Homo sapiens: one gene and its partners. The protein of the gene in region 4 purifies or fractionates together with the protein of the main gene of each other region. This does not show direct contact. Each region holds a gene or a part of one and is shown on either strand. Other genes may lie near its edges.

Evidence for each region.
Region 1: the proteins of TRIO (region 4) and NAV3 purify together in Homo sapiens (affinity purification with western blotting, with the first as the bait; one study listed by BioGRID). This does not show direct contact.
Region 2: the proteins of TRIO (region 4) and ARHGEF7 purify together in Homo sapiens (affinity purification with mass spectrometry, with the first as the bait; one large-scale study listed by BioGRID). This does not show direct contact.
Region 3: the proteins of TRIO (region 4) and NOC2L purify together in Homo sapiens (co-immunoprecipitation; one large-scale study listed by IntAct). This does not show direct contact.
Region 5: the proteins of TRIO (region 4) and PPM1F fractionate together in Homo sapiens (co-fractionation; one large-scale study listed by BioGRID). This does not show direct contact.
Region 6: the proteins of TRIO (region 4) and EIF2S3 purify together in Homo sapiens (affinity purification with mass spectrometry, with the first as the bait; one large-scale study listed by BioGRID). This does not show direct contact.
Region 7: the proteins of TRIO (region 4) and NAV2 purify together in Homo sapiens (affinity purification with western blotting, with the first as the bait; one study listed by BioGRID). This does not show direct contact.

The regions. Positions count from the first base shown.
Region 1 is NC_000012.12:77,833,894-77,837,393, reverse strand, and holds part of NAV3 (neuron navigator 3), read right to left. Parts: intron 1-3,500. UniProt on the Homo sapiens protein: Plays a role in cell migration. May be involved in neuron regeneration. May regulate IL2 production by T-cells.
Region 2 is NC_000013.11:111,282,810-111,286,309, reverse strand, and holds part of ARHGEF7 (rho guanine nucleotide exchange factor 7), read right to left. Parts: intron 3,172-3,500; coding exon 2,947-3,171; coding exon of another isoform or gene 2,911-2,946; intron 1,906-2,910; exon of another isoform or gene 1,484-1,905; intron 164-1,483; coding exon 70-163; intron 1-69. UniProt on the Homo sapiens protein: Acts as a RAC1 guanine nucleotide exchange factor (GEF) and can induce membrane ruffling. Functions in cell migration, attachment and cell spreading. Promotes targeting of RAC1 to focal adhesions. May function as a positive regulator of apoptosis.
Region 3 is NC_000001.11:949,257-952,756, forward strand, and holds part of NOC2L (nucleolar complex protein 2 homolog), read right to left. Parts: intron 3,345-3,500; coding exon 3,156-3,344; intron 2,884-3,155; coding exon 2,744-2,883; intron 1,983-2,743; coding exon 1,871-1,982; intron 1-1,870.
Region 4 is NC_000005.10:14,506,842-14,510,341, forward strand, and holds the end of TRIO (triple functional domain protein), read left to right. Parts: intron 1-280; coding exon 281-419; intron 420-1,038; coding exon 1,039-1,581; 3' UTR 1,582-3,363; downstream 3,364-3,500. UniProt on the Homo sapiens protein: Guanine nucleotide exchange factor (GEF) for RHOA and RAC1 GTPases. Involved in coordinating actin remodeling, which is necessary for cell migration and growth. Plays a key role in the regulation of neurite outgrowth and lamellipodia formation.
Region 5 is NC_000022.11:21,946,349-21,949,848, forward strand, and holds part of PPM1F (protein phosphatase 1F), read right to left. Parts: intron 1-3,500. UniProt on the Homo sapiens protein: Dephosphorylates and concomitantly deactivates CaM-kinase II activated upon autophosphorylation, and CaM-kinases IV and I activated upon phosphorylation by CaM-kinase kinase. Promotes apoptosis.
Region 6 is NC_000023.11:24,061,456-24,064,955, reverse strand, and holds part of EIF2S3 (eukaryotic translation initiation factor 2 subunit 3), read right to left. Parts: intron 2,541-3,500; coding exon 2,382-2,540; intron 756-2,381; coding exon 621-755; intron 1-620. UniProt on the Homo sapiens protein: Member of the eIF2 complex that functions in the early steps of protein synthesis by forming a ternary complex with GTP and initiator tRNA.
Region 7 is NC_000011.10:19,936,337-19,939,836, reverse strand, and holds part of NAV2 (neuron navigator 2), read right to left. Parts: intron 177-3,500; coding exon 64-176; intron 1-63. UniProt on the Homo sapiens protein: Possesses 3' to 5' helicase activity and exonuclease activity. Involved in neuronal development, specifically in the development of different sensory organs.

The DNA of each region.
Region 1 (3,500 bases), on a different chromosome or scaffold from region 4:
TTCTCCTAAATATCATTACCAGTGTCATTTGGTCTCATTCTTACATAAGATCTTTCTCCATTGTCTACCTGCTGTTTTCCATAAATATTATGCTTCATTTATAGTTGTTTACTTCCCTTTTGAGGAAAAGTTATGTAAACTTTTAAAGTTTAAAGTTTAAACTTTAAAAGTTTACATAACTTTTCCTCAAAAGAATGTTTTTACTCTATATATCTGAGTCCTATCTGCTCATTAAATTTCAAAAATTCGGTCTTTTCTGAATGCTCCATTCATATACAATTTCTCTCAGCCCTAACATTCTGCAAAAGAATTGTCCACATTAGCAATACTATTTATACAATACATTTGCATGACAATATTATTTATGCTTATTTTAAATATTTATTTTAACTACTGTTTTTGTGTATTTTCTGTTTTCAAAGCATTAGTGCCAGCTCTGTGTGAACACAACAGCAAGAAATAATTCTTACCATGGTTGCCCTTAACTAGCAGAGTGAATAGGAATTAAATAAGCATACATTCTACCATGGACATAAACGCCTCTACTCTTTGAATAAATTTCTTTGGATTGCCCCAAGCGGATGTAATCTCTCCTCCCTTATAGCATCCACACCAATTTGTCTATACTTTTATTTGACCTTTGAAATAATCTTAAATAGTGGGTAAGATTTGGATGATAGGGTAAACCCAGAAAAAATATTGCTGTTACATCATTAAGAGAAAGTATAAATAAAATAACATAGAAAAAAGTCTTCCTTTGAACAAACTTTAATTCAAATTTTGGATTTTGTTACTAGTTAACTGTGTGATCCTATGTATGACTCCTACTCTCTCTGTTTATTTCTCTGTAAATGTAGATTATAATACTTTCTTTGAAATGTTTTAAGAATAAAGTAAAAAATTTTCTATAAAATACAAGGCTTGTCCACAAAAAATAATTGCTTTCCATAATAATGTAAAACAGAATCTTGAGTTTGCACAAGTAATCTGAGAGGGAAGGAATGAGTGAGCCCAAGACTGGAAAGAAGTTGGAAATGAAAATAGGAGTAAAAGAAAGGTGGCAGACCAAGTTGGAAGGAGACTGGGGATTGAGATGTAAAAGCCAGGAAGTGCTCCACAGTAAGTATGGCCAAGAAACTTTCATGAACAGGGATGTTTAATGCTTAATTGGATGTTGTTTGCTGAGCTGTGACAAAATAGAACACTCTTTCTTAACCTTAACTTCCAGAATGTTAAGTAAAGGTTCCAAGGCAAAGTGACTCTGTTCTTCATTTGGGTGTATGCCCAGGAAGAATGGAAAAACAAATCCATATGAGAGAGATTAGAAAATTTGAGATAAGAAAGAAATCAGAACAAGATATAGCTAAGGAAAACATAAGCCCTTGAAATATTGTGGAGGATTTTCCAACTGCATATGACATAGAGTCTGGAACTAGTATTATTTATTTGTTAAAGGACAGTGGGACTAAACATTCTGAAGAAATTGGGACACCCAGGAAGAAGACATCTGGGATGTAGCAGCTAGATGGAGCTATGACGGAAATAGAGAAAGTGACAACTGGGAGACAAGAATGCCTGAATGAAGACATTATAAGATATGAGAAGCAAATAAAGTTTTCTTCTTAAGCAGGATGGTGAATATGCTGCATGGATGTGGGTAGAGAGACACAGGAGGAGACGATACCAATTTGGAATCACTGAAATAATTGATAGGAAACTTTAAAGGCCATCAAAGGATGAGCAATTGCAGAAGAAGATAAACCCAAGCTATAATACTGAAGTAAAATTCTCAACTTCTGGCAAGTTATGGGATGTGAAATGGTGATGTACTTTACCAGATATTAGTCTAGGAATTCGGGATTAGATGACTGGAATGATGGCATTTGCACTAATTGAAACAACAGGTGAAGGGAGTGACAACTGAACACACATTTCTGACACTGTCATATGTAAATTTGTTCTCTCAAACCAGATCATAAAACTGTTTGGTACAAGGACTAGCAGAGTACCCCACATAAATGTTTCTTAATGACAGTCGTCTATTGTGGGTACTATCAATAGTATCTTTTCCTAGAAATTGAACCCATAATTCTTAGCTGAGCACATGGCTGCCTAGAACAAATACTACATTTTTCAGTCTCCATTGGAGCAAGGTAAGGCCTTGGAACTATAACGAGGCCAGTGTGGAAGAATATTTAATAAAACAGGGTGTATCTTTTTAATTAAGTGGAGTGCAATTATCTACTCAAGACTATGAGGTGTGAGCCACAAATCGATGATGGCAACCAAAATAGAGCCTGGTTCCCTGACAACTTCCTGAAGTCTCCCTACCAGCCATACATGGACTGCTCAACTCCAGATTTCCTTTACATGAAAATGAAATAAACGTCTATCTTCTTTATGCTATTGTTATGTTGACTTTTCTGCTTTTGCAGCCAAGTCTAATTCTCTCTAATATAACTACCTTGTTCGATTTTGCTATTTACTTCAGTTCTGGGTTTTTTTTTTTTTCCCAAAAGCTAAAATAACTCTACATATACTTCTTTTTAACATTTAGAAATATTCTGAACTGCTGACCAGGCATTCTTTACATTTGTTTGAAAACATTTTTAATCTGATAAGTGGCATGGTGAAAACATCCCTATAAATACAACTTTGCTTACCACAGAGGCTTATTGGGATATCAGATGTTTGATTAATATGTTTGCTAACCAAAGAGATCAACCAAAATTATATTGAAAACAGTGCTTATAGTGCTCAAATCCTAGGCCAAGGTCATTTAGCAAAGTGGAAGTTTCACTAAACCTACAGAAAAGATAGCCATGGTCAGCAGAGACAGTGTCTCTCTCTATTCTTGCCATTGAATCCATACAGACTTGTGGATACACAGAAGATTAGAATGGAATTTTATGGCATTTCTTTTAATTATTTGCAAAAAGATAAATATTTTTAGTATTTTGTTGATAATTTATGTTTCCCTGCTTTTTACTCTGAATTGTTCACTTTGAACTGAGAACTATAAACCCATAAAAAATATTTTATTTTAACTGATTTTTCTCACATGGACAATGCTATGTTAGACATAGAACTCCACAAATCATCCATTCCCAACCCCTTGTTTTATACATAAAATTGATACAGGAAGGGGGCAGGGAAGTGCTGTGTAGAGAAAGATGGGGTCCCTGGCTAGGGCTCCACCCCTGGGCCTGTGCCCATGGACCTAGTGAGGACAGGCATTTATGTTTTCATGCCCAAATGTTGCATTGTCTAAGACCACCCTGGCCCACCACCTCCCCATTCTGTGCCTATAAAAACCCCGAGACCTTAGCAGGCAGAGACAAAAATGGCTGGACATCGAGAGGAACACACTGGCGGAAGAACACACAAGCGGCTGGACGTCGAAAGGAACACATAAGCGGCTGGACGTCGAAAGGAACACACCAGCAGAAGAGGACACCGACAGGCACCTGCAGACACCGGCAGGCCATCGACTGCAGAAC
Region 2 (3,500 bases), on a different chromosome or scaffold from region 4:
TCCCAGGAAAGCCATGGCCTACGTGACCAGGAGGCCACGTCCTCCACCACACGGACCGCAGGTACTCACTTTTCCGGGACGCGAACTCCTCATCTGAAGGCTTCCGTTCAGGTTTGCGCTTGGGCAGCAGCTTTTTCATGGTCTTAGGGCTCTTACTAAGATCCTAGGGAAAGACAAAAGAAAATGCTAACATACTCTAAAGCCAATCATTTTCACTGGCATATCAGAAAGGCTGCTGTAAAGGTATAAAACCCCAAATTATTATAGCCACTGATAAGAGCTTCTCGCCTTTTCCTACTTTGATTTTTCTTTACCAGCTTCTGAACGTTAATTTTTAAAAATCAATAGGGCATTTTCAGTATTAGTCATTGGCTAATTTTTTTTTTTTAATTCTAATAAAACCCCTCGTGTCATTTGGGTCCTGTTAGTCCTGTGATGAGAGGTGTCACCAGGAGGCAGGCTGGCGCTGGTGTGCACAGACATCCTGCACGCTCCTGAGGGAGGAGGAGAGGAGGGGGCAGCTGCTCCCTAGGACAGACCTATCCCCTGGCACAGCTAACTGGAAAGAGAGGAGGAAACTAAGGTTGTCATTAAATGACAGATAAGTAAAAAATAATTGCTTTAAGAAAATATTTGAAGTTTCAGGGAGAAGAAAAGGGAGCGAGTGCTCAGCTACCTGACTCTGAGTGCCAGGAGCACAGCCAAGCTCGGCCAGGGCTGCTGTGCAGGGGCCACATGCACACCAGCTCAGAGTGTTCACAACGGAATGGCCCACCCCTTACCTCTTCAAACAGCTTTTCAAACAAGCACAGAAGACGACGGCAAAAAACAAAGTGAGCAAAGCAAGTCCCAACAGAGCAGGTAAGGTGTCAACTGTCAAGCACGTGTTAAATACCGATATCAAAAAAAGGCTGGTTTCTGCATCACCCCAACGACATAAACCATCACGAATGCTAAACGCGAGACCAAGACTCAGAAGATGAGATGTGCTATGGAATGAACCAGGCTGGAAACAGAGGAAACAAAGCTTGGTTTTTAAAATTATCTTTAAAAGTCTTTTCTTGGGAGCTAAACAATGGGTACACATGGACATGACCATGGAAATGACAGACCCTGGGGACTCCAAAAGGCGGAAGGTGATGGGGGTGAGTTTTGAAAAGCTACCCATTGGGTACAATGTTTCCTATTTGGGTAATAGGTACCCCAGAAGCCCAAACCCCAGCATCACCCAATACAGCCACGTAACAAACTCTGAATCTAAAATAGCCTTCAAAAAGTTAAACAAAAGTATTTCTATAAAAAATTGGAAAGCTCTTAGAAATGCAGCAGCAATCTGTTCCAGAAGACACATTTATACACATGTGCTCATGGCTTCCCTAATTCGAAGCAAATTGAGATGGAGAGCCTTGAAGAGCCAACGCCCGCCCCTCACGTGCTCCGAGGGCACCTGCAGGCGCAGAGGGTCACAGAGCACACAGCACACCTGAGCCAGAGCCAGGCAGAGCGGGCTGCAGAGCGGCCTCCACGAGCCTCCATGTCCTCTTCTCACACCCTGCAAGATCACTCTCCACGCTACTGCTGGGCGGTGCTCAGCAACACTGGACGGCAGCTGCTCGGTGTGAGCCCTTCTCTCCCAGTGTGGAGTTGGCAAAGCAAATGCAGCCAGACTTATCAAAAAAAATTGTTTATCTTCACTTCAATACCCCTTCCGTTGCCCTTTCTACTTCTTTGCCCAACAGTTTTATCCCAATTTTCTTCCCTAGTAATTCAGTCTCCACCAGTTCTTGTAGTAGCTCACTTTTTCTTTAGACTGTGCACACTAAAGTATACAATAAGGAACAGCAACATTCTTCAAGTAACTTCCCATGATAGAAAATGGAAATTCTGACTTGCACACATGATTACCTGAAAGATATCATAAAAACAAAGACTCAGAACAAAAAATGAAAAGCACAGATCCTAATTTCTCATACAGTACTTTCCTGTGGGCCTTAAAACCCCCAGGGCTGCCGGCAAGAATGTAGAAAAAGTCTGCTCCAGTTCCCTTGGCAAATGTGGCCTTGACCAGACACAGAGGCACAATGCCAGGCAAGAGCGTGTCACCATCCTCACGCTCACTCACACCCCACCAACGGGCACTGCTGCTCACACTGACGCGCACGATACCCACACTCTCACCGCCACTCCTCATACCTCACCACCATGCACGCTCAACTGCTTATGAAAACAACTCTCATCTCAATTATCAGCTTCCTCAGGTGAAAGTACTTCTCAGAACAGATTTCTAAAGACACTTCCTTTCCTCATCCAAGCTGGTTTAGGTAAAAGTGTAAGGAAGTGTTAACACTTCTATTTATTCATTGGAATCGTACTTTATTTGCGCCTAGCAAATATAAAAATGCCGGATGAGAACAGAGACAAGCAAAGACCGCATCATGATTTCTTATGCATCAAAGGGGGAAACCGCCTAAGTGATTGTTTTTCATTTGTATTAGTAAATGTTCTCTTCATCTCAAATGGCTTCTGGATGACAAAATGCAGGGCTCCTGGACAGGATCCCCAACCTAGAGGAGGGGTCGTTAGACGCAGCAGACAGCGTGCAGATGCTGAGCGATGGCCTCACACACAGGGAGTGAAAGCCACCTGGGCTCAGCGCCTTTCCAGCTCCTGGCCCCTGGCGGCACACTCCTCCGGCAAGTGCAGTAAAGGCCCCCCTGTGCATGGCAGAAAGGAGGGGGACCCTGCACATCGCCTTCCCACACAGGTTACCACGGGCCTCTCAGCAGCAGAGCAGATAACCAGAGAACCAAGGCAGACCCCCCCTTCTCAGTTCTCTAGGAGTTAGGGTGCATTTTGCTGTACACAGAAGGCCCAGCACGTGGGCACACCCAGGGCCCGAGGCATGCTCACCGTCATCTGGCTGTTTGAGTGGTCAAGGGACCTCACCTCCTTGTAGCAGAGAGCAGCTGAGGGCCGGAGGGGAGGCGCGGGCCGCAGGCAGCTCAGGCTCCAGGGCTTGGGTGTTTTCGGAGGCTCCAGGGGTCCCCAGTTGATGGTGGTGTGCGGGGTGCCGTGGTGGGAGGGGTGGGGCAGCGTGTGGTAGGCGGGCGTCAGCGGCGCGGGCTTGCTGTCTGCGTGCTTGCTGGACGGAGTGACCGGGTGGGAGGGGAGCTGCCAAGGGCACAGAGCGGGAAGGGCAGAGAACATGAGACTCGCGTGCTCACCGCGAAAGGGCACTTATCACGCACTTCCTTCTGCTCTTTAAACACTCCATGTGAAATAAACCTCAGGATTTATCATTTCATTCGTATCTCTGGCTCTCAGCAGTCAGTTTTTGGGGCCAAACACTAGCTCGCGCCACCTGGGCCGAGCGTGGGGCTCCTCACGGCGTCTGCCCCAGACAGGAGGGGCAGCTCTAGCTGGGGCCCCAGCACTCAAAAGACATCCACTAGCCACATTTATTAGCTACGGAGTAACATTTATAGAAAAAAGGTACTTCA
Region 3 (3,500 bases), on a different chromosome or scaffold from region 4:
TACATGCTGGGGCACCAGAGGACAGAAGCAGATTATGGGGGGCCCAAGGGTGGAGGCCCCAGCAAGACACCCCACTCAGCAGGGGTGGCTGCCAGACAGCTGAGCTCAGGTCCAGATGGGAAAACGCCCTGGTACTGATGAACCTCTGGGAGGACACTGCCCTTCTCTAGCCTGGGCCAAAAGTATGGGCAGGCGACTGGCTTCCTGTCCAGGCACCGGGGAAGGGCAGGCACGGCCTACAGCTGAGGGCTTTGTTTTAGCTTTTAGGGTTTGCTTTTTCCGGAGAGGAGAGGCCTGCATCCCTGCGTGAGAGGGGCCTACAGGGTGCGGCTGCAGTGAACCAGGGCAGTGCACAAGTGAAGAAACAGACACTGCAAGAGAGTAAGAAAGCACGTAGCCAAGGAGATTGGACAAGGGAAACAGACACAAAGCATGCCTGGAGCTGGGCAGCAGAGCTGGAGGCCCACAGACACAGGGGCCAGGCCAAGGGCTGGGCAATCAGAGACCACTGCTGGCTGCCATGGGAGTGAACATGGCTTCCTAAAGATGTTCAGCATCCCTGCCTCAGTGGAAGGGGAATCAGAACGTGCCTGGGGCTTCCATACCTTCTGGACCCAGCAACCTGGGGACCCAGCCCCAAGGACAGCTGTGACACGACTCTGGGCCTTCATGAGGCTGAGAACTCATTAGATAAACAGGGTGGAGATCGTGAATTCCTAAATTTACAGCGGGGTGGGGCCTAACCCACCCACTGAAAGTTGAAACTTCGGACTCCAATCTTTCCCTACCTGAGTGGCATGTGCACGTGCAAAGATGCATACACACAGGTACACACAGGCGCACACATGCACAGGCACACACGTAGACGCACGTACATGCACACAGGTGCACACACGCACAGGCACACACAAGCAGACGTGCATGCATGCACCCAAGTGTACAGGTACACGCACAGGTACACACGCACAGTACACACATGCAGATGCAAATGCATGCACACAAGTGCACACAGACACGTGTGTATGCACATAGGTGCACACAGGTACATAGATGCACGCAGACACACATGCATGCACACAGATGCACACATGCAAAGGTTCATGCATGCACAGGTAGACACATGCAGACGCAAATGCATGCACACAGGTGCACACACGCACAGGTACACACATGCAGACAGGTGCACACAGGTACACACGCATGTGCATGCATACAGGTACACACAGGTACACACTGGTATACAAAGACACATGCACAGGTGCACACACGCAAAGGTACACGCAAAGGTACACACATGCATACACACAGGTGTACACACGCACAGATGCACACACCTGCAGGCACACAGGCATTCATGGATACACGTGCATACACACATACAGATGCACACATGAACTGATATGCACACACACACAGATTTACAGACCCATGCACCCAGATGGTGCACACACACGCATGCATGCACAGACAAACGCACCCACCCAGATGTACACACATCCCCCATACAAATGCATACACATGCACACAACTGTCAGGGCAGGGCACTGTTCAGTGTACAGTTCAGCAATCAGACTTGGGTTTTGGCCCATCTCGCCTCCTGCCTACTCCAGTCTTGGGCAAGCACCTACAGGGTCAGGTCCCGGCATCCTCAAGCACAGCCCTAGCAGCAGCCGCCTTCATCCCCAGTGGTCCCACGTTCCCCAACACTGCCCCCAGCACACGGAGGAGCACTGTCCTCGTGACACCCGTGACAAGGAGGCGGCCAGGGCTCCGGGAAGTCGCCGGACAACTCAGCACAGACGCCCGGAGCAGCAGATGCTCCCTACAGGAGCAGGCAGAGGTGCCACACGCCCACCACAGCCTCACTCACCTCCAGGATGAAAGGCAGCACCGGGATGAAGGCCCCCGAGCTCCCCGAGAGCAGCGTCAGGGCACGGATGCAGTGCATTCGCAGCGGGTAGAAGCGGGCAGTGGGGATGAGCCTGGGGGTGGGAAGGCCGAGTGAGCAGAGGCCCCGGCTCTGGCAGCCCCTGCCCCTCCCCCTGCTGTCTTGGACCTCCTCCCCCACTCACCGACATCAGACCCCTAAAGCAGGACAAGGCACGTCTGAACCCCAGGGACCTGCACCCCTTGCCCAGCTATGGGGCTGCAGGTACCTTACCCAGCTTTCAGCTTTATTTCAACACGGTGGCAGGGGTCATCTGTTCCTGCCTGCTCTCCTCCCTGTTCCCGCCTTTCCTACTTCTTCCCTTGGACTTCCCACCTCCCTTCCCAGCCTTGAGTTTCTAAGGCTCAGCCAGACAGATGCCCCCTCCTGGCCAAAGAGGCCACAGTACTGCTCCCACCTTTTCCTGCTGCAGCCCCTACCGTGCCTGGACCCTCCTAAGCGCTCACACCCAAAATGCAGTTCACTGCATCAGATGTGCTCCACCCAAGAACCCCACGTAATGAACCAAACTCACTGCAAACTGCACACAAGCCCCCAGAACACACGCTGGGTGGCACCCGAGGCGGCTAAACCGCTGTTGGAGGAGCTCATGTCACAGGTGCCCACCAGCCCTAGCTCTCCAGAATCCAGAGCATCTCCCCGTAGCAGGTACAGGGACCCCAGCCCTTCCTCAGGGACGGCCAGGACACAGACTCAGGCCCCAAGGCCCTGAACGCCAGAGGCACCGCCCACACAGTCCCAGCAAATTTGCTTCTCCTGACCCTCCCGCACAACCCTGCCCACCCCACAACTCACTTGATACAGCCAATGATGACTTGGGCAAGGGGGTAGACCAAGGGCTGGAGGGCTTCGCTGGGGCCCGCAGTGCTCAGGACCCGGCACCACAGGAAGAGGCAGTGCACATACTGCCAGTTGTACACAGACTGGTATGTTTCCTGGTCAGAGAGAACCACGTCAGCTACTGGCCAGGCTGACAAGTCAGGCTGATGCACGTTCCTCCTGGGCCGGCACAGGAATCATTTCCTCATCTTGCACACGGGGTCTCAACCCATCCACCCTTCCCCCACCTGCAAGGACCGACTGCACCAGGGTGCTGGGCTGTCTCCAGACAGGGGCTTCGGGGAGGCCCCAGGCCCTGCCTTGGGTCGGGCACCTGGGCTGCCCCACCCCATGCCCAGCATGAGCCTGGAAGGGCCCCACCACACACCTTCTTGCGAGTGGTCATGGCGTTGCGCAGGTGTATGGCGAGCTGGCGGATGTAGAGGAAGGCGTGCTGGTAGGCCACACCCGGCTCCAGGGCCAGCAGCTCCGTCAAGGTCCACTGCATGAAACTGATGAAGGGGAGGGCACCAGGCGAGGTGAACTTGCAGTTCCTCACATACGTGATGTACATTTGCTGCGGAGAGACCCGGGTCAGAGCCACCTGGGATCAGGGCCATGCACCTCCACCGCCCACTCCAGGGCCCCTGTGAACACCTGGGCCTTTCCCTCAGAGCTGGGCCTCGAGGAAGAGCCGTAGCCCCTTGCACAGCCCCCACCCCCAAGTGCCCAC
Region 4 (3,500 bases):
CACGCCATCCCCCGCAACAGGCGGGTTTGGACCCTTGACTGTGCCGCTCTACCACCGGCTTCCCTCTTAAGATGGAGACACCCTGTACCCCACTCGCATCTTCCCAACAGAGCTTTACAAAATCCCCCTCCTTGTCTAGTCACGCCTTAGAGGCACGGCCCTGAGATCCCGATGACACATTCATAACAGGTGACAGGTCCGACATGTTTACTTCTTACTAGCCCAAAGAGGTCTTCAAAGCAAATCGCATCATAACAGTCACCCGCTCCTGCCTCTTTAGGGCTGACCAGGGTCGCCTCCTGGACTGCGTGGTGCGATGGGGAAGCCTCACTGAAGGGAAGATCAGGGCGCACCTGGGGGAGGTTCTGGAAGCTGTCCGGTACCTGCACAACTGCAGGATAGCACACCTGGACCTAAAGGTTGGTGAGGCCCCGGGCAGGTGAAGGGGGGTCTGAGCACACCGGCTTGGCCATGCGGGACACAGAGCCCCCTCTGAAGCCAGGCCAGGAGCCCCCAAGTGACTAGGGACAAAAAGGGTGGGTGGGGCAGCGCAGACACTGATTGCTAATCTCTCTCTCTAAGCGTTTGCGTTCAGTGATGCACACGGTCAGGAGCACACTGGGTAAAACGCCGGAGCCCTCCCAGCCTTCCACGACTTTCAGAAAGTCCCCATGAGTTTTGCCCGGTGGGTGTGGCGGGTGCAGTGGTAGCTTAGGCGGGAAAGAGAGCATTCCCCTTGGTGCTGGGAGGGAAAATGAACACCCAGCTTCATAAAGCAGCCTGGTTTCATTAGGCTACTTGGCACTTAGATCTCCAAAGAGAGCTGCCCTGTGTGGATCTGGGTCCCAGCTCCGCTGTGTCATCTCTTCCTCCTCACCCTCGGCTGCCAGCTGAGTGGTCCGGCCTGCTTTGCACATGCATGGCTTGTCCTAGTTGACATCCTAGATTCCTTCCACCTCACCATAGAGTCCCGCCCATCATCACGAGTAAGCTTAAGATTGGATGGTCTGAAAATGACAGTTGTATTCTGATTTCCAGCCTGAGAATATCCTGGTGGATGAGAGTTTAGCCAAGCCAACCATCAAACTGGCTGACTTTGGAGATGCTGTTCAGCTCAACACGACCTACTACATCCACCAGTTACTGGGGAACCCTGAATTCGCAGCCCCTGAAATCATCCTCGGGAACCCTGTCTCCCTGACCTCGGATACGTGGAGTGTTGGAGTGCTCACATACGTACTTCTTAGTGGCGTGTCCCCCTTCCTGGATGACAGTGTGGAAGAGACCTGCCTGAACATTTGCCGCTTAGACTTTAGCTTCCCAGATGACTACTTTAAAGGAGTGAGCCAGAAGGCCAAGGAGTTCGTGTGCTTCCTCCTGCAGGAGGACCCCGCCAAGCGTCCCTCGGCTGCGCTGGCCCTCCAGGAGCAGTGGCTGCAGGCCGGCAACGGCAGAAGCACGGGCGTCCTCGACACGTCCAGACTGACTTCCTTCATTGAGCGGCGCAAACACCAGAATGATGTTCGACCTATCCGTAGCATTAAAAACTTTCTGCAGAGCAGGCTTCTGCCTAGAGTTTGACCTATCCAGAAGTTCTTTCTCATTCTCTTTCACCTGCCAATCAGCTGTTAATCTGAATTTTCAAGAGAAAACAAGCAAACATAACTGATCAGCTGCCGGTATGTTCATCGTGTGAAATTGCATTCCAAGTGAGCTGTGCTCAGCAGTGCTTGGACACAGAGCTGCAAGCTGCGCTGGGGTGGAGGACCGTCACTTACACTCTGCCCAAGGCAGAGGTCGCATTGCTGTATCACAGTATTTTATTCAGGTTTCTGCAAAAAAATAAAAAGATAACTTTTTTAAACAAACATGAATAGAATTTTGCAAATTTAACGTTTTCAAGATTTATTCAAGGAAACAAAATGCCTATGTTCAACCACTGGTGTTAATGAACAAAGATACTGTGCGTCTCTGGGGAAGACGCACCTAGGTGGCGGCCACTCCCATGGCCTTGTCTAGGACTCAGAGACCACTCGGCTCTGAGCTTCCAGGCGCCTCGTCTGTGTGCATCTCACGCCCGACGTGGCTTCTGAAACGTGCATTCAACCTCAAACTTTTGCATAAAATAGAATGAATCGTTTTGCTCTGATGAAATGTAGGCCTTACTTGTATATAAGACTGTTCCTGCCTTCGGTCTGTCATTTTCCCACCTGCCTCCCCTACCCACCCCCCACCCACCACCTGGGGCTTCCTCTGGGGGTCCGAGGGTCTTCCCATCACATGAAGACATCAGGTTGGGTCCTGCCCCACTGCCCCTCCCCCTGTTCCTGCCCCAAGCCGTCAATCAGATTGTGGAGCAGTACACAGTCAGATGAAAATACTGTAAATGCACTCATTGGGGGTTTTTTGGTTTTACTTCATATCATGTGCAATGTTGTGGCTTTAACATTTTATGCAACTATTTATGAAGACCTCTGTTGTACCTGTAATAAATATATAGAAAAAGCACATACTTCGTATGGTGAGCTTTATGGTTTTGTGTGTGTGTTGGGGTTGGCGGGTGGGTGGGTAGGGTCGTAGCCCTGTGCCATCGGTTCAAAGAGACTTTTCGTGAAATTTGTTGGTTTTGAGGACTGTAAAAGTGATTTCATACTCTGAATATAAAACTGGATAATAGGGTAATGTTTTAAAATTTATTATGCTATTATTCAGAATGCCAAAGTATTATTTTTTTTCCCAAAATCAGTCTGGACATTTACTACTTTTTAGACTTTTTGACGTTGAACTTTCTGTATAAAAATTGGCTGGGTTTTGAGCTTTTGGTAAGAAATAAAAGCCGATTAAGCACTGGCCGCCCCGCGGCTGGTACCCAATGCCCGAGTCACTGTGGCAGCATTCGCACTGGTGTGGGGAGTCCTTTCAACTCAAGGAGGCTGGGTTTCTGGGCACCCTCGAAGTTTTCTGGATGTCTTTTTATCTTTCTCGTGTGAACTGCACTACAAAAGAGACCAGCCCGCTTCCCAAGCCAGCCAGACACCTGGGTCTTGAGCCATAAACTGGCGTAGTTAAGCTTTGCAGCTTCCAGTGTATTTTATTTATTCTTTTGTTGGGTTTTTGTTTGTTTCTTCTTGTAAAATTGTACAGAAACTTTTTAAAAGAAATTGGATTCGAAACTGGATGTGTATTCGTAACCTCATAATTTTTATTTGTGTATTGTTTCTTTTATTATTTCAGTTAAATTTTTACATTATTTTGCATGTATATTTCTTTGTACAGAGACCTTACATGTTTACACAGTATGATGTGATGTAAATATTTTATTTTGCCATCAGTTATTTTAAAAAATTAAACATATTTGCCTGATTTTTGTGTTAGGCTTTTTATTTAAATTGGTCACTGTTGAATCAGAAAGACAGATGGCTGAGGGAGAGACTGATGCAGAGACTTCTCGTGGGCGGGAGGTGGCAGAATGTACTGGATTGAGAACCCTCTGTACACAC
Region 5 (3,500 bases), on a different chromosome or scaffold from region 4:
ACAGAGGAGGAAGACTGTTCCTGGCAGAGGGTGGCCAGCGTGGCCAGAGACGAGCAGGACAGGGATGCCGAGGCCAGGCACTGAGGTAGGTGAGGGGGTTCAACCTGATCACGGGTCCCGAGCAGCCAGGAGGGCTCTGAGGTGAGGGAGTGAAGCCACCAGGTCTGTGAGCCTGGACGTGGTGACCAGATGGCAGGAGGGACACCTGTTGGGGCTCTAGTGGTGTTCAGGGGAGGAAAGAGAAGGGCCAAGATGCGGGAGGCCGGCCCAGGGCTGTTTTGGAGATAGGCCAGAGTGGGAGCAGGAAGGGATCCCCAGAGGCTGCTGGGGCCACCCAAGGGGTGGCCAGGAGAGAAGCAGAGGTTTAATCTGGGACAGACAGGAGGTGCTGTGGGACACCATCGAGCCTATTCAATGCTCTCTAATAGGAGGAGGGAATTGTGAGCCTAGAATGGCTCAGGCCTGCTAAGCCCTGGCTGGAAGAGGGGCACTGTGGACAGTTCCAGGCGCTGACCCCACTGTGCGGCATGTGGGCTCTTCCTCCCTAAGTCCTTAGGGATGACCAGAGCTGACCAGCCCTGGGAGTTGCCCCTAACACCCCAGGAGCCAGGACAAGCCCCCATTTCACAGATGAGAATCCCAAGGTTTGGAGAGGGTTAGTCCCTCGCCTGAGGTGTCAGAAGGAAGACAGGGCCAAAGAGGGATCGCAAAGCCTGTGCCTTCACTCCCTCACCGGCTTCTCTCTCACTGGAAAGAGGCACATGGTGCCTCACAGCCTCCTCCCAGGGTGGCTCTGGCTCCTCTTCTCTCCTAACTCCGAATCTCCATAGTCGCCTCCCCAGCCTGCCTGCCTTGCCTATACCCAAACAGCTCTCCAGCGCCCCCCCTTCCATGTTCTTTGCGTCGCCCCGGGGATTCACCTCCAGGCCCCACACCTGGGCCTCCCTGCCAGCACCCACTCAGCATGGACCCTTCTCTCTCCTGCCCCCTTCCTCTCGGGTGCCTGACCCCTCCAAACCCTCCCCACAGCGGGGACTCCACCTTGGGCTTTGTCTAACACTCAGGCTGGGAAACTTTATTCAGCGAGTCCTACGCAGTAGTGGATGAGATTGGATCCAGAAAAAAATAAAAAAGAAATCCTACACAGTTACTAAGCCAGGGAGAAAAACTGCATTCTTTTATGGTGACAAACGGACATGAGACTCTGAGGAACACCCCGAGTTCTAGGGTGGAGAATTTGGGGAACAGTTTCACAGCCCATCACCTTCATGAGGACTTCCAGGTTCTGAAAACTGAACGAAGAAGGCAAGGAGAATCTTCTAGAATCATCAGTCTTAGAATAGCCACAGACTCTGCCTACAAACTTTGCTAAAAGGGCGGCTGTGGCAGGGGCCTGAGGTGCAGGATGAAGAGAGTGGGAAGTAAGAGATGCAGGGAGCTCACAGCCCACAAGAGGGCTGTCCTTATCAGGAATTGCTAACTTGGAACAAGCCTTCTGGAAGCCTAAAGATAAAAAACACAAAAGAGAATGGGGTGGGCAGAGGGAAAGGTCCCAGCACCAAGTTAAATGTCTGATCAGTGAGGGATTTGGAATGCAAGGGGTGAAGGGTGGTAAATTAACAAAACACAAAACCCTTCTCTTCTTTTAGAGGCAGAATTGAAAGGTAATTTATTTAAAGTGGACACATACAAATAACGTAGGAATAGGGGTGCTTGCTACTGAAGGTTCTGGGGATAGACTAAATTTATTGCTATGGTTCACATTTACTCACAAGTAGGAGTAAATTTAATGCAACCCAGGTTACAGAAGGCAAGCAGGTAAAAGGATAAAGAACATAAAACAACTGGCAAGGCGCTGTGGCTCAGGTCTATATCTCAGCGCTTGGGGAGGGTGAGGCAGGAGGAGTGCTTGAGGCCAGGAGTTCAAGACCAGCCTGGGCAGTGAGATCGCCACCCCCCCCCCACCCCCCATCTCTACCAAAAAAGAAAAAAAAAGAACATAAAGCAAAAAAGGAAAAATCACTTTGAGAGCAGGAGGGACACTGACATTCAAACGACAAAGGGAAGACTGTGAGCTGGAGAAATGAGCAGAGGCTGGGAGCCCTAGTAGGTCAATGAGGAGGCGGCACGTCCTGCCAGCCATGCCCCAGCAGAGCTGTAAGGCATTCGAAGATGGCGTGAATTTCCCAGCAAGCTTGGCTGCCCTCAAGCAGTGCAAGCGGCCAAGGGCCCCTCTTCTGCCTGGGACTGCCCTGGCCCCTGGAGCTTCTGGGAGAATGTGAACGATGCAGAGCTGCCCCCAGCAACTGCCAGTGCCTGGGGCCTCCTCCCACTCCCTTGCAATTCCAAGTGATCTGGAGGCTCTACTGTCTCACCACAAAATGTGCTCATGTGAATTTATGATTAGGATCCAAGTGAGAGGACAGCATGCTCCCCGCTAGAGCACACAGAGGGCCCCCCTGGAGAAACCCCTGCCCACAGTGTAAAGCCCCACTGTCAAGGGCAGAATTCAAGACCCTTCACTTCCACCCCATTTGCTGGTGACGTCTGCTGGACCTTTTGGGATGCAGGTGCCTCCTTCTTGCCTCCTGACCTTGGGGTACTCTTTCCTGTGCCGTGAGCCCCTCCCCACAATCGGCCTGTTCCCTCAGGGAGGGTGGCTCCTCCTGTCTGCACTACAGACCCTGATTCACTGTGGCCACCTGCCTGCTCTCTCTGTGCCTTGTGCCCACTATCTGCACATGCCTCAATGGTGTCTGTGCCATGTGTACTAAGTAAGGTCTGGGGGGTGTGATGATGTGTGTGTGTGAAGCTCTGTCTGCATCTGTAGAGGGGACAGGCTGGCTTACTCTCAGGGCCTGTGCCAACTGCCTGCTCTTGTTACAAAGGCAGGGTGCCCAGGGCCATCTTACTTGCTGGGGACCAAGCACCCTTGTTTCTGCATCACCAACCTAAGGCAAGGGGTGAGGAGAGAAACCAGGACACAGCTTTCTCTCCCTGGAGCCCAGATGTCGAAAGGGACAGGAATCATTTCCTTCCTTTTCCCAATAAGCTCCTGAATCTGACGTACACCATGGCACACCCGGCAGGAAGGAGAAATTCCTCACCAAGGGAAACCAGAGGCAGCCCTGGGAGTGCCTGGAGGGGCAGGGGACAGTGCTGTGGTTCTTTGAGGGATCAACTGGAAGAGACAGCATCAGGAATGGCATGGAGGCCAGCGGCAAGCCGCAGGGAGTAGGGAGAGCTGGGAGAGCACCAGAGGCAGCGGAGCCTGGTGCTGGGCTTTCCTGAGCAGGGCACACCAGTGAAAAACTCCGAATAAGAGGGACGTGTGCATGAGCCTGTGCAAATCACCAAGAGCCCGGGGTGGGCATGGGAGGGACATTGGACTCCTGCATCCCAGCACCGCCTGCCTGGACCAGTCTGACCAAATGCGACTGGCAGCTGGTTCCTCCTGGATCAGGGCCCCACTGCACACCAAATGGGTGCTCACCCTCCTA
Region 6 (3,500 bases), on a different chromosome or scaffold from region 4:
GTTTTAGTCAGGAAGTTCTAACACCCTAAAACATTATGATTCCATGGAGAATACTGTATTACTCCATCTTGATCATGTACCATATATTAAGCACAGAAAGGTTAGCAGTTGTTTTTGGGTTTTTTTGAGACGCAGTTTCACTCTTGTTGCCCAGGCTGGAGTACAATGGCGCGATCTCAGCTCATTGCAACCTCCGCTTCCCGGGTTCGCGCCATTCTCCTGCCTCAGCCTCCCGAGTAGCTGGGATTACAGGCACCCGCCACCATGCCCAGTTAATTTTTTATATGTTTAGTAGAGACAGGGTTTCACCATGCTGATCAGGCTGGTCTCAAACTCCTGAACTCAGGTGATCCACCCACCTCGGCCCCCCAAAGTATTGGGATTATAGGCGTGAGCCACTGCGCCCGGCTTAGGTTAACAGTTCTTACTGTGTTCAGGACTCTGTCCCTCATTCAGTAATACAATCTAGCACTGCCAATACAATCTCAGAATTGATTTCAAAAAAATTGTATGAATTATCACCTCTGCAGAAAGAGGAAATATTAATAAACATCCTTGAAGAGGAATCACCAATGTGGAAAAGATCAGATTAAGAGTTAAAGGCAAATCCTATCACTTACCAATAAGCCGGGGCTCTGAAGTAAAGTCTCTTGGGGGTACTGGAATTTTCTTTACTATGTACTCACAAACAACTTCAATATTGTATTTCAGCTGAGCTGAAATTGGAATAATGGGAGCTCCCTCTGCTACTGTACCTATATGACAAAATTTAGAAAGATCAAAATTATACAGTTTTATAAAATTTATTCTATGTATCTGTTACATAAAACAATTAAGATTACTATAATAAAATAGATGCCTAAACCCCATATAAATGTCAGCAACAAGTGGAAAGTGGATAATTCTGTTTAGAAAGATGGCAATATTGTTTGTTTTTACTCCTGAAAATGAATACAAATCCCTGTAAGAGAAAATTTGTTACATTATATTAGTAGACATACTTAATATTAGTACAATGATAAACTTATTTAAATAAAGAAAATACTAACATTCCTGTGAAAGAGCACTCTACTAGTTGAAAAAATTTCTAACAACATGTAATTAATCTCCCAATAAATGTCAAGATAAAATTACAGACTCTGCTAATCAAAGACTGCTGGCATATATACTTTTTTTTTTTGGAGATAGGGTCTCGCTTTGTCACCCAGGCTAGACTGCAGTGGCATAATCACGGCTTGTTGCAACCTCCACTTCCCAGGCCCAAGCGATCCTCCCACTTCAGCCTCCTACATAATAGCTGGGAACACAGGTGTGTGCCACCAAGCCCAGCTAATTTTTTGTATTGACAGAGTTTTACCACGTGGCCCAGGTTGGTCTTGAACCCCTGGACTCAAGTGACCCACCCGCCTCAGCCTCCTAAAGTCTTGGTATTACAAGTGTGAGCTACCACGCCCAACCATATATATTTGCTACGTATTGATTATACGTCAAACAAGCTAGTCAAAGAAATAGACCAAACACAATTAGACTTTAATCAAATTCACTTATTACTTCTCGTGATGACAGAACTGAGTTCATAAGAAATTAACCTTTCTAAAAAGAAAAACAAGACTGAGAGAGAAAATGTCAACAATAAATCACATCTCCTCTGAAATGAAAAACATTATGCTATTAGAGAAGGGACACTCTAGAGATTTATTATTTATTTATTTGAGATGGAGTTTCGCTCTTGTTGCCCAGGCTGGAGTGCAATGGCGTGATCTCGGCTCACCGCAACCTCCGCCCCCCAAGTTCAAGCGATTCTCCTGCCTCAGCCTCCCAAGTAGCTGGGATTACAGGCATGTGCCACCACACCCTGCTAATTTTGTATTTTTAGTAGAGATGGGGTTTCTCCGTGTTGGTCAGGCTGGTCTCGAACTTCCGACCTCAGATGATCCACCTGCCTCAGCCTCCCAAAGTGCTGGGATTACAGGTGTGAGCCACCATGCCCGGCCGACACTCTAGAGATTAAATAATCACTGTCACTTCCAAATCTGAAAGCTGTTCAGTAACAAATACTGTAAGACAAGGTTTTTTAAAATTATTTTATTCATTTTACTGTCACTGAGATTTTTTTTAATCTGATTGATAAAGTTTCCAGAAAACAACCTCAGTTCTAACTTGCTGCCAGCAAAAATATACTTTAGTATATTAAATTCAGAATCACAGGTTTCATTAGTTATATCAGGTTACTAACAAGCAAAAGGTAGGGCGATAAGGCTTAAGACTTGTAAGTTTACCTTGTTTTAGATAATATATTAAAAGTTAATTTAACATCTGGTATCCAGAGTAAATGCCTCTCAAAGTGATTCATAGATTTATTTCATATTATGGCTTCTTACCTTGGACAAATGCAAGGATCTGCTCGTATTGTTCTTTAGCCTGACTTTCTTTTACCAAATCAATTTTATTTTGTAGAATCAAAATATGCTTCAGTTTCATGATCTCTATAGCAGCCAGGTGTTCCGATGTCTGAGGCTGAGGGCAAGATTCATTACCAGCTAGTTGATGAAGAATAAAAAAGATGCATATAAGAATAGCTGGAAATATCCAGAATAGGCGGGCAAATCCATAAAGAGACAAAGCAAATTATGGGTTGCAAGGGGCTGGGGGAGGAAAACATGTGGACTGACGCTTCATGGGCATGGGGTTTCCTTTTGCGGTGATACAAAAGTTCTGATACAAAAGTTCTGGAACTAGATAGTGGTGAAATGACAACCACTATGTTGTAGAAAATTGTCAATGTGCTTAATGCCACTAAATTCTACCCTGTAAATACATAAAATGGTACATTTTATGAGTCTCTTTTGCCACCCACTCCCCGCCCCAAAAAAAGTTGGCATCTAATAAAGGAGACTTCTGAATGTTCTAACCCTAATAAGGAAGATATTATTGCCAGGTATCCACCTTTTGGCCCTGCTTCATCCTCTGTTGCCTGCATTCACTGGAACCTCCCAATTGTGTGGCTCCCAATCCTGGTCCTAAGCAAGAAGCTTAAAATCAGCAAGTTTGGCTTTTCTCAGGGTCTGCACTCAGCTTTTGCTCAGGTATGAGGTATAGCCCTCTAACTCTCTCCAGTTTTAGAAATGTTCTGGCCCAGGCAAGCTCCTGAGAAGTAGAGAGTAATTAAAAGGGAAAAGCACTTAATACTGTCTATGAATTTTTACTAATATCAGAGGCTACTCTTCAACTGAGGGAGGGAAGAATGCTATTGTGAAGATAACCAACAGTGTATTATAAAGAAATAGGCATGTTTTGTTGAGCACTCTAATGATCAACCTCCTCAAGTCGTGATATTCAAGTGTCCTGACTATACCAACATGGCATGCTTTAAAAAAAAAATTTTTTTTTTGAGACTGAGTCTCACTCTGTCTCTGTCACCCAGGCTGGAGTGCAGTGGCGTCACCTCGGCTCACTGCAACCTCCGCCTCCCAAGTTCAAGCGATTCTCCTGCCTCAGCC
Region 7 (3,500 bases), on a different chromosome or scaffold from region 4:
AGCAGGTATTGCGTGGAAGGCCTCATCACCAACAGACACAGATTTCTGAGGCTCCATACTCACCAGTGAGTTCTTCCAGAGCAGGCTGTCCAGTCTTGGTGAAGTGGCTGGGCTCCACGCTCACACCTGTTGAGCTTGACTCGGCAGTAACATTCCCTTCAGTGTCCGTCTGAGACCTTCACACACAAACCGAAGCAGACACACTTGTCATGAGAGGCAACTACCACATCTGGACCACTGTGGTCTAACCACAGCCCTCACCATCACCTCCTGTAGCAAGAAGCTTCAGAACAGAGTGGACCAGCAGACTGACGCTAAATAATTCATTAGCCGTATGTGGAGCAATGTCCTAAGAACAGAGAGAGCCGCTGAACTGTAAAAGATAAACTTTTCATTGCCCAGATGGAGGGTCTGCAATCCCTCACTGGGGAATGCTTCTCTGAACCTCCGTCAGGATGCTAGGTCTAGCCAGACACATGCTGGAGGGTACGGGGTGATTTGAATAATTTAACCTATGCCAAAGAACAGCTTCTAAGTAACCAGCCATGCCAACAAGTCAAACATAAAGATGACTCTATTAACAGCTCCCCCACCCCAAAATTCTCCTGACATGGTTTTCTCTATAAAGGTGACCATAAAACCAGTCGGAAGTGGGTGCCAAGCAGGTGTGTTTGCCCTCCAGGTCTCTGATTCAGAGCTTAGTTCTTCTGACATGAAAGGTCTCATTGATCATTATTTCAACACTTGACTGAAATCTGTACTTCCCCAAACCCTCTCCATGCCCTTATTTGTCAAGCAAATTGAAGCAACAGCTTCATGCAATGTTTTCTTGTCACAGCTACCTCTGCTCATTCAGGCATGGCATGCAAATGCATAATTACACTCAGATGCATGACCCTGCATGTAACATTATTAACGCACTGGCATGCTGAACTAATTCAACCGATTTCACTACCTGTGAAGAAAACGTTTGCCCAGAATGAGAATGGACCACGGGGGATGTACTGATAAACCTCAAGTCATCCAACTGTTCTTCCCTCCTTTGTTCTTCCTACTGAGGCCATCGTTCTCAATTCTGTTATCTTTACCTTTAAAGGATTTCATACTCCCTGTGCTCCTTTCACCTCCAGCCAGGGTCCAAGCCCTCATCATCTCTGCTGAGGCCTTATGAGTACTTTGAAACAGGTACCTCACACCTAGAGGTTACAAATGGCAGCCCGGTGTGGAAACCAGCCCAACTTATTCCTACTGGTCTGCATAATATTTTAAAGTTTTAAAATTAGTTCAACATTTAAAAATCGGGATATTTCACAATAAATATCTGCATTTCTGCCTTCGTCCAGTAAAAACAATAAAGCTTGGAAAGGACTGTCTTTGTTATTGCAGATCGCCACCTGCTGGTGCCAAGTGGTGGCTGCACCCTCTAAAGAGGCGTGGCTCCCTCTGCCACAGGCCCACTCACCCTGAGCCACCCATCTAGATGACCATTTAGAGGCCAATTAGGCATCTGAATCTGTGATCTCCATTCTACACTCTTCCTAAGTTTGGTCTACTCCCCACACGATCTTTCATTGACTTTTGTAATACTGACGTGATGACATCACTGTCTTCGGTGGTTTCCATTACCCACAGAATAAGGTCTAAACCCCTTATTGTGGTAGATGATGGCCACATTCTTCCTTTATTTCCAGCCCCATCTCCTGCCTTTCCAACTCTTTACATACAACTCTACTATGCTGCACCCACATGTGGCTTCTCTCCACATGGCTTTAACAGGTTTATCTTTGCAGTAACTACAACCTCTCTGCCTAAAGGCCCTTCTCCTCCTTCCTTAGTTCGCTGCTAATCTGTCTTTAAGATGCAGCTTCCATGTCATCTTTTCCTGAGAGCTTTCCTTGACTCCTTGCCAGGAGTTCCTACAGCACTCTCCTTATTCTCTTGTTGGCTAAAATGTGATCCTATAGCACTCTCCTTATTCTCCTGTTGGCGAAAATGTAAATCTTTCCTCAACTAGATTGAGAGCTCTTCAGAGGCAAAGGTTAGTTCAAGTTCATATGCTACACAGGCAACGCAAGAAGGGTGTGTTGACTGGATAAATAAGAAATGTTTAAGTCTCAGAAGATGCTAGGTACTAGAAGGAACATTAGACTTGGAAGTCTAAATATTCGACTAGCTCCAGGTCTAAGATCTATAACTTGTTAGCCATGCAAAACTTGAGTTGTCACTCCACCTCTTTGAATCTCAGCATCCTCATCTGTACAATGGGGATAATAATAGCAATCTCCTCTGGTTCTATAAAAATGAAAGGTGATGTGACACACAACTCTTAGTAAACTATAAAGTGATAAAGTGATAGATGAATCCACTGTTACTTCTGAATTGATAAATATAATTCATTCTGAGTGATTTTTAAAAAAATGACCCATCTTCCCTTTACTCCTTGGTAACAACTTTAACATGGAGAGGTTTTGGTGGGCGGGGGGGGAGCAATTATAAGTTATATATAGTGAACCATAAGCTTGAGGGAGAGAATTTTAGAGCAGAAAAGGAGAATAAACCATTTTATAGAATCTAATCTAATCCAATCTTCTCATTTTCCAGATGAAGACAATAAAGATAAAGTGATTTAGAGTCAAGACTGGTGGTTAAGAGCCTGGTCTCACTAGTTAGACAGACTTGGCTTTTTGGTTTGTTTGTTTTTGAGACAGTCTCGTTCTGTTGCCCAGGCTGGTGTGCAGTGGCGTGATCATGGCTCACTGCAACCTCCGCTTCCCAGGTTCAAGGGATTCTCATGCCTCAGCCTCCGGAGTAGTTGGGACTACAGGCGTGCACCACCTCGCCAGGCTAATTTTTGTATTTTTAGTAGAGATAGGGTTTCACCATGTTGGCCAGGCTGGTCTTGAACCCCTGACCTCAAGTGATCTGCCCACCTTGACCTTCCAAAGTGCTGGGATTTCAGGTGTAAGCCACCATGCCCAGCCTACACCTGGTTTTAAACATGAGCCCCTCTAGTCTAGTTCTGTGACTTGGGGCAAATTGCTTAATTACCTCTAAGCTGCTAGCTCATGGAGGTGTGGGAAGAATGAAGTGAGCTAAGATGTGGAAAGCCCTTAGCGGACTCTGTACCCACACTCGATCAATACCTGTTCCTGCAGCCAGTGCCGAAGACCTCAGAGGGCACCAAGGGCTGATAAAGGACAGGGCCCAGGTGTCCTGATTCGTATCCTGGTGCTCTTATTTCCAGCGTCACTTCCCAGACTACCCTAAAGATGAAGGCAACTCAGAGGGGACAGAAGGACGTTAGTTACCCAGAGTGGGCATTAACGTAAAAACGGGGCTAGTCAGATCCACATCATAGACGTTTTCCTCTTCCTCCTCTTTGTCAGACATTTGCTTTTTATCATTAAGACTTTTTCTTCTGATAGAAAAGCTTGAAATAAAAAAAGGTTATATCTTTTATAATCTTTCAAATGATTATAGCGAACAACAAAAAAAGAAGG